Linked DNA regions of Homo sapiens. The protein of the gene in region 1 purifies or fractionates together with the protein of each later gene. This does not show direct contact. Each region holds a gene or a part of one and is shown on either strand. Other genes may lie near its edges.

Region 1 (3,500 bases):
GGTTTTTCCGCGGGCGGGGGTGTGTGTGTGTGAAAGCGGTTGCCCCCGACAACGCCGGCAGTCCGCTCACCCGCATTGGCCCGGCCCGGGGGTGGGAGGGGAGGCGGGGCTCGCGCGCGAGCTTTCGCCTACGCGGCGCGCTGGCAGGCTGCGGCTCCTGCAGTCGGGGAGCGGGCGGGGGCGGAACCCTGGGCGTGCTCGGCGTGTCCGGGGCCACTCAGCGCACGCTGGCATCCGCCGGGGGGCATGGGGGGCGGCGGCGGCGGCGCAGCTGAGCTCGCGGTGTCCCCGAGCGCCGGCGGCCGGGAGGATGGCCTGGGCTGCGGGTGGGGCGCGCGCCCGACGGCTGGGGCTCCCCTCTGAGCGGCTGCGGCTCCTGCACCTCCCCGGGGAGCCGCCCCGTCGATGCCACTAAGGCCAAGGACATATAGACGGTCTGCCCTCCCCCACTCAAACCGGGATCATGACGGTCCCCAAGGAGATGCCCGAGAAGTGGGCCCGGGCCCAGGCGCCTCCCTCTTGGAGCCGAAAGAAGCCCTCTTGGGGGACAGGTAACGGGAGGCAGCGCCTGGCAGCTCTCCCGCACCCATTATTTCCCCCCTCCAATCCCTACATTCACTTGTCCCCAGCCTCCCCCTACCTGCCTTGATCCTCTTTCCAGACCCAGAGATCCTGGCTCCGAAGGATCCAGTCCCTACCTTCTTCGTTTGCATGGTCTTTGGTGATTGCGCAGGGGACTTGGCCCAAGAGAGCCCCTCTAGGGAAGTTTATGGGAGTGAAGTGGCTTGGTAGGCAGGGGGCACTGTGGCCTGGGTTTTGTTACTGCAGTGTGCTCTGCAGGGGTCCTGGGGTGTGTAGAAAGGGTTCTGGAATGCTGTCTTTGGCTCCCGGACAGGCTTAAGGCATTAGGTTTGCTGCCTAACCAAGTTACCCCTTTTTGCAGCATGAGGTCATGGTGACCCCCGGGGAGACGGGCTGGGGAATCTATTATAGGACAGCTCCTTGTTCTGGGACATGAATTTGATGCCTGCAGTCCCAGACCTGCAGAGGTTTCAGATAGGTTTAGCTAGATAGGTGTCACTAACTGAGTGACAGATGAGCCCTTTAAAGCTAAATGTGTGCAGATGGTACAAGGAAGGTCCAGTTAGAGAGCAACTGTTTCAATTACATTTCATTCCTCCCTCCTCTATCTCTATCTCAGTCTGCATGACCCATATCCCTGAAACGCACCCCCCACACCTTTTTCTACTTGAAGATGAGCTTTGAAATAAGGTGATGTCATTTCGGGCCAGTCAGAAGCAGTTGCTGGTGACATGTGACAACCAGAGGCTCCTGTAGGGGGGACTGCACATGGGGCTGGGATGCTCCCGCAGAGCAGCTCCAGGGCACAGGGAGCCTCCTTCTTGCCACCTACCCCACTCTCTAAATAAGGGAGAGAGCAGTACCGCGACTAGATCTGCAGTGGTCCCCAGGGGGAAGGAAGCTTTGCGTTTTCAGCGCTACTCCTTGATTATGACAATGTATGCATTAGTAATAGCAGCAAAAGGGGCTGGGGAATCCCAGGACTGTCAGTGGCTCAGATTCCTCTGGAGTGGGGGTGGGGGAGACAAACTGGGTGCTTCCAGTGGAAGACCTTGAAGTTTGGTGGTGAGGAAAAGAGAACATGTCCTGTCCTGTGAATGTAACCTGGAGAGCCGTGTGGTCAGGCTGCTGGTGAGAGGTGGACTGGAGGGAAGAATTTGATGACCCCCTCAGTTGTGGAGCTAACTCCTTAAAATGATATTCTGTGGAAAAAAACAGGGAACCCCCCAGCAAAGTGTTGGTCCAGACCTCAGTTTGCTCCTCCTGACTGCAGCATCATTTTGTTGCAGAAGAAGAAAGGAGGGCGCGGGCTAATGACCGAGAATACAATGAGAAATTCCAGTATGCGGTAAGCGACTCTAGACCACCTGTTCCCTCTCTCTGTTTGGAGAGGGGAATGGGGCAAGGACAACCTACCGTTGGGACTGAGGGCTGCCTGGGAAGAGTGCTTGGGGGAGGGGAAGCAACCTCCTCAGCCACTCTCCATCTGCTATCGTGCTGAATTTTTCATGCCTTCACCTGTCAGTGAAGCAGAATACATTGACCCCCTTGAGACTCCCTTCTCTCCTCCTCTTTCCCCCTCCCACACCTGTGTTTGCTAGCTTTTGGGGTAGAGGTCTGGGGAAGTATAAAGATGGGGGAGGCAGCCTCAGTCTGGTTCTGGGTTGGGACTGGAGACTGCTCATTATCTTCTCTCCTACTGCCATAGAGTAACTGCATCAAGACCTCCAAGTACAATATTCTCACCTTCCTGCCTGTCAACCTCTTTGAGCAGTTCCAGGAAGTTGCCAACACTTACTTCCTGTTCCTCCTCATTCTGCAGGTAGGTGACCCATAGTAGATTTTTTGCAGCTCCCCAAACTGAATAAAGCCAAGGAAGAGGAAAGGGAATGAAGGCATCAGATGGGGCCTCAGAGGCATACTTCTCTTTCTTTTTTTCAGTTGATCCCCCAGATCTCTTCCCTGTCCTGGTTCACCACCATTGTGCCTTTGGTTCTTGTCCTCACCATCACAGCTGTTAAAGATGCCACTGATGACTATGTGAGTGGTTTTCATTCTTCTATTTTGTCCCAGTCACCCACCCCTACTCCCAGCCCCACCCCCATCTCATGGCCACCTTCATCCAGCACAATTTCTTGGTGACCTTGACATCCCTTACCCGGTCCAGCTAGATCCATGATGTCTTTTTGCTGAGCGTGGGGAGAGGGAATCAGGGAGTGAACTGGTTTGTGATGGGGTGTGTATGAGGCGTTAACCAGCATGCTCTGAGTTCTACTGATCAACGAATTCCTTCGAGGCGGGGGAAGGTGTCTTACCTTTCAGTTTTCTTCTTTTCAGTTCCGCCACAAGAGCGATAACCAGGTGAATAACCGCCAGTCTCAGGTGCTGATCAATGGAATGTGAGTGCCTGTTGGAGACAAGAGCTCTGGGGACGAAGGGGGTCCCTTAGGAACCTCTTTAGCTCCTGACAGCCTCTTCACTGTCTTCTCGTTGCCTCAGCCTCCAGCAGGAGCAGTGGATGAATGTCTGTGTTGGTGATATTATCAAGCTAGAAAATAACCAGTTTGTGGCGGTAAGGGACAGGGTACCCCTCTAGGCCTGTAGGTTCTTCCTCTTCTTTGTGAGAAAAGGATGAATCTTTCCTGATTTACTGTTGCCTCTTAAACACCCGTGGCAGGAATCTTTCTCACACCAGGGGCTTCTGTGTCATGCTGATATGCCTGGAACTAGCCATTTATGCACCTGGAACTAAGCAAACCAAGAATGCTTAGTGGAAGGAGCCACCATTACAGCCCACTGGGGGTGGAGGTTTGCATATTTGGACTTCTCATTAGTTTTTCTCTCTAGGCGGATCTCCTCCTCCTTTCCAGCAGTGAGCCCCATGGGCTGTGTTACATAGAGACAGCAGAACTTGATGG
Region 2 (3,480 bases), about 45 Mb from region 1:
AAGTCTACTTTGACAGCTAGCAAGGCGACATGCAACTGTTGTTGAATGATGACAGCAATTCAGGAAAGACTTAAATATGAAAGCAAATTGAACACATCGGGTGTTTGTTATCAGAAAAGAGATGAGATGAGATAAGACTTGTTTATTGACTAGCCAATATGTCATTAAAATTAAGGTTTATATTGTGAAGCTTTTTTGAAATTTTACTTTTTTTTGAGAGTTTTGCTCTGTCACCCAGGCTGGAGTGAGGTGGTACAATCTCGGCTCACTGCAACCTCCACCTCCCAGGTTCAAGAGATTCTCCTGCCTCAGTCTCCCGAGTAGCTAGGATTACAGATGTGCATCACCATGCCTGGCTAATTTTTGTATTTTTTAGTAGAGATGGGGTTTCACCATGTTGGTCAGGCTGGTCTCGAACTCCTGACCTCAAGTGACCCGCCCTTGTCGGCCTCCCAAAGTGCTGGGATTACAGGCATGAGCCATTGTGCCCAGCCTATATAGTGTGAAGCTTTTAGGAAAATCAGAACAGGGTAGACAGCTGTTAAAAACAATGTTTAAATGGAATAATGTTGAATGTTTACAGGCTGTAAGAACTATTGTATACACAAAATAATACACAAAGTTTGTACTTTGTGTACAAATACAAATTTGTACTTTGTGTACAAATAATACAAAAAGTTTGTATACACAAACTTTTTACGTTGTGGTTTGGTATATTGTCTTAACTGAATTTTCTTATAAGAACCCCATGAAACTTACCTGAGTTTTTAAAATGCTATCCAGGACATCATACCTTATAGTATACATGAAACATAATGTAATCCAGGTTGTAATTTAGAACTTTTTTTTTTTTTTTAGCTGAGCACTTAATGTAATTAATTCCAGGTTATGACTCTTAAAAAACATTGGCCATTAGAGAAATAGTTCTATTTGCCCATCCAAATCACCTGAATGACTTTTTGAAAGAATAGGGGTCCACATCCCCAGATCCCATCCCAGCTGTGCACAGTCTGAAGCAAGCAGAGTGAAACAAGTTGGCAACTTGTTCCAAGCGTGGGCCTTTGCAGTCTGTGATCCAGTGTTACTCCAGGTCCCAGTCTGTCCCATACTTGTCTTTTGCTACAGTTAGTTAGTTACTTTGTTATCATCCCCTTGTAAACTGCCTTCAATATCTGGGATAAGGAAGACAAAGCTTAATGACAACTAAGGTTCTAGCTGACATCTTTCTTTCATATTTAATTTTTGTGAGTTTTCATCTGTTTTCTGTTTGTTTATGTGTCCTAGGTTCTTGACCTAACCACATGGGTTTTGTTTTTTGTTTTTATATTAGAACTTAGAAAAGTTTGTTTTACAGCAGTATTATGGAACAGAAGAGACCATTTTAAATAATTTTTTTAAACAGCCCAAAACACACAAAAGATACTTGTTTTCTAGAGACAGGGTCTTGCTCTGTCACCCAGGCTGGAGTGCAGTGGCACGATCATAGCTCAGTGCAGCCTCCACCTCCTGGGCTCAAGTGGTCCTCCTGCCTCAGCCTCTTAAGCAGTTGGGACTACAGGTGTGTGCCAGCATGCTTGCTGTTTTTTTTTTTTTTGAGACAGAGTCTTGCTCTGTCACTCAGGCTGGAGTCCAGTGGCTTGGTCTCAGCTCACTGCAATCTCTGCCTCCCAGGGGTTCAAGTGATTCTCCTGCCTCAGCCTCCCAAGTAGCTGAAACTACAGGCGCATGCCACCATGCCCAGCTAATTTTTGTATTTTTAGTAGAGACAGGGTTTCACTATGTTGGCCAGGCTGGTCTCAAACTCCCGACCTCAAGTGATCCGCCCGCTTCGGCCTCCCAAAGTGCTGGGATTACAGGTGTGAGCCACTGCGCCTGGCTGCTGATTTATTTTTCATAGACACGGGGGTCTATGTTGCCCAGGTTGGTCTTGAACTCCTAGCCTCAAGCGATCCTCCTGCCTCAGCCTCCCAATGTGCTGGGATTACAGGAATGAGCCACCATGCCCAGCCCAAGAAGTAGAGTTTCTTTTATACTGACTTTGGCCTAAAAAAACAGATTTTCATGGAGGAAAAAAAAACCTAGATTTTTAGTAAGACTATTTTATATACTTTTTTACATTGATCAAGTACATTATTTTTACCAAACAACATTGTTTCCCACTACATCCATGGTTATGTATAAAAAAACGCCATTGTCAATTAAGATGTTAAAAAATTATTTCCATAAGAGTATTAAATTCTAATCTATGATTCACTTAACTTCCTACTTTATAAACACTAGGTAAAGTAATCTCACAAGCTGCCAAAGAACACATCCCAAGCAGTAATCACAGACGATGAAGCACCTTACAGGACCCCTCCACCCTCAAACGCGCATGTCCAGAGAAGTATTAATGCCTTAATAGACTACTGAAGGTTAACTATTTACATCATTCTAAAAATATTTTAAGCTGTATTACAGTGCTATAAATTCTCCTTTTAAGGAAAAAAGTAATAGATTGTTTCCTTACCGTGTTTGAAAGGAAAAAAAATAAATCCATAGTAACTAATGGTCTGCCGATTTTTTCCCTGAATTTTTAAACTCCAACAAAGCATTATTTTGCAAAAAGTCCTTTAGCCCAAAGTCAGTGTCTCTGTTTTGATCTCTTTGTAAAAGAACTCTCTGTTCATCCATTCTCTTTCCCTGGGACCGTAAAATAAGGCTGAAAAAGTCTTCATCTGGTACTGTCGGACCCTTTGTGGTAGCAGGTGGTGGAGCACATCTTTGATCATCTAATCTGGATCCCTAGAAGTTTATGAGAGAGATTAAAAGACATACTGTGGGAAAGAAAGCACCAAGCTATGTTAAATCTCTCAGTCACAACAAGAAAACGCAGTTGTAAACTTTTATTTGGGGCTTCTCAGAAATTAATCTTTGTTTTTATATTGTTCTCTTTAGTTCCCAGCCTGATTTCTGAAAGAAATAATCTTTAAACCTGAAACTGCATAAAATTTTTCCTTTAAAATGGCTTATATAGGTATAGCTGCTTCATTGGTTTAGTACGTGCATTATGTTAAGTCATACTGTTTTAATTATAATTGGTCACAAGGATAAAAGACAAGGTCAACTGTATCTAAGTATGACAGTTCAAGGTTATAATCTAACAGGCATCAACTGTGTAACTTAACAAATCTTTAGAAATATGTACAAACCCCATGAGGAACTACCTTAAAAAAATCACGTCTTAGGCTAGGGGACAGCAAACTGTAACCCAGTGCCGGCTTCTGTAAATGAAGTCATTTTCATTTTCCCATCAATACATATGTTTATATACTATCTATATGGCTGCTTCCCTACTAAATGGCAGAGTTGGGCAGTTGCAATAGATACCATATGGGCGGCAAAGCCTAAAATATTTTCTATCTGGCCTTTTACAGAAAAAGTTTGCCTGCCTCTGTCTTAGGCTGTTAAATCTGTTAAGAAATAGCCCAGAATGAATTT

The links. Proteins that work in one complex are often made in the same cells at the same time.
Region 2: the proteins of ATP8B2 (region 1) and CLCC1 fractionate together in Homo sapiens (co-fractionation; one large-scale study listed by BioGRID). This does not show direct contact.

What each region holds. Positions count from the first base shown.
Region 1 is NC_000001.11:154,328,525-154,332,024, forward strand, and holds part of ATP8B2 (phospholipid-transporting ATPase ID), read left to right. Parts: intron 1-273; exon of another isoform or gene 274-463; coding exon of another isoform or gene 464-551; intron 552-1,871; coding exon 1,872-1,930; intron 1,931-2,290; coding exon 2,291-2,404; intron 2,405-2,523; coding exon 2,524-2,622; intron 2,623-2,919; coding exon 2,920-2,981; intron 2,982-3,081; coding exon 3,082-3,154; intron 3,155-3,429; coding exon 3,430-3,500. UniProt on the Homo sapiens protein: Catalytic component of P4-ATPase flippase complex, which catalyzes the hydrolysis of ATP coupled to the transport of phosphatidylcholine (PC) from the outer to the inner leaflet of the plasma membrane.
Region 2 is NC_000001.11:108,929,005-108,932,484, reverse strand, and holds the end of CLCC1 (chloride channel CLIC-like protein 1 isoform 1 precursor), read left to right. Parts: 3' UTR 1-2,544; coding exon of another isoform or gene 2,545-2,784; 3' UTR 2,785-2,980; downstream 2,981-3,480. Other genes in the region: GPSM2 (G-protein-signaling modulator 2), read right to left, coding at 2,545-2,784. UniProt on the Homo sapiens protein: Anion-selective channel with Ca(2+)-dependent and voltage-independent gating. Permeable to small monovalent anions with selectivity for bromide > chloride > nitrate > fluoride.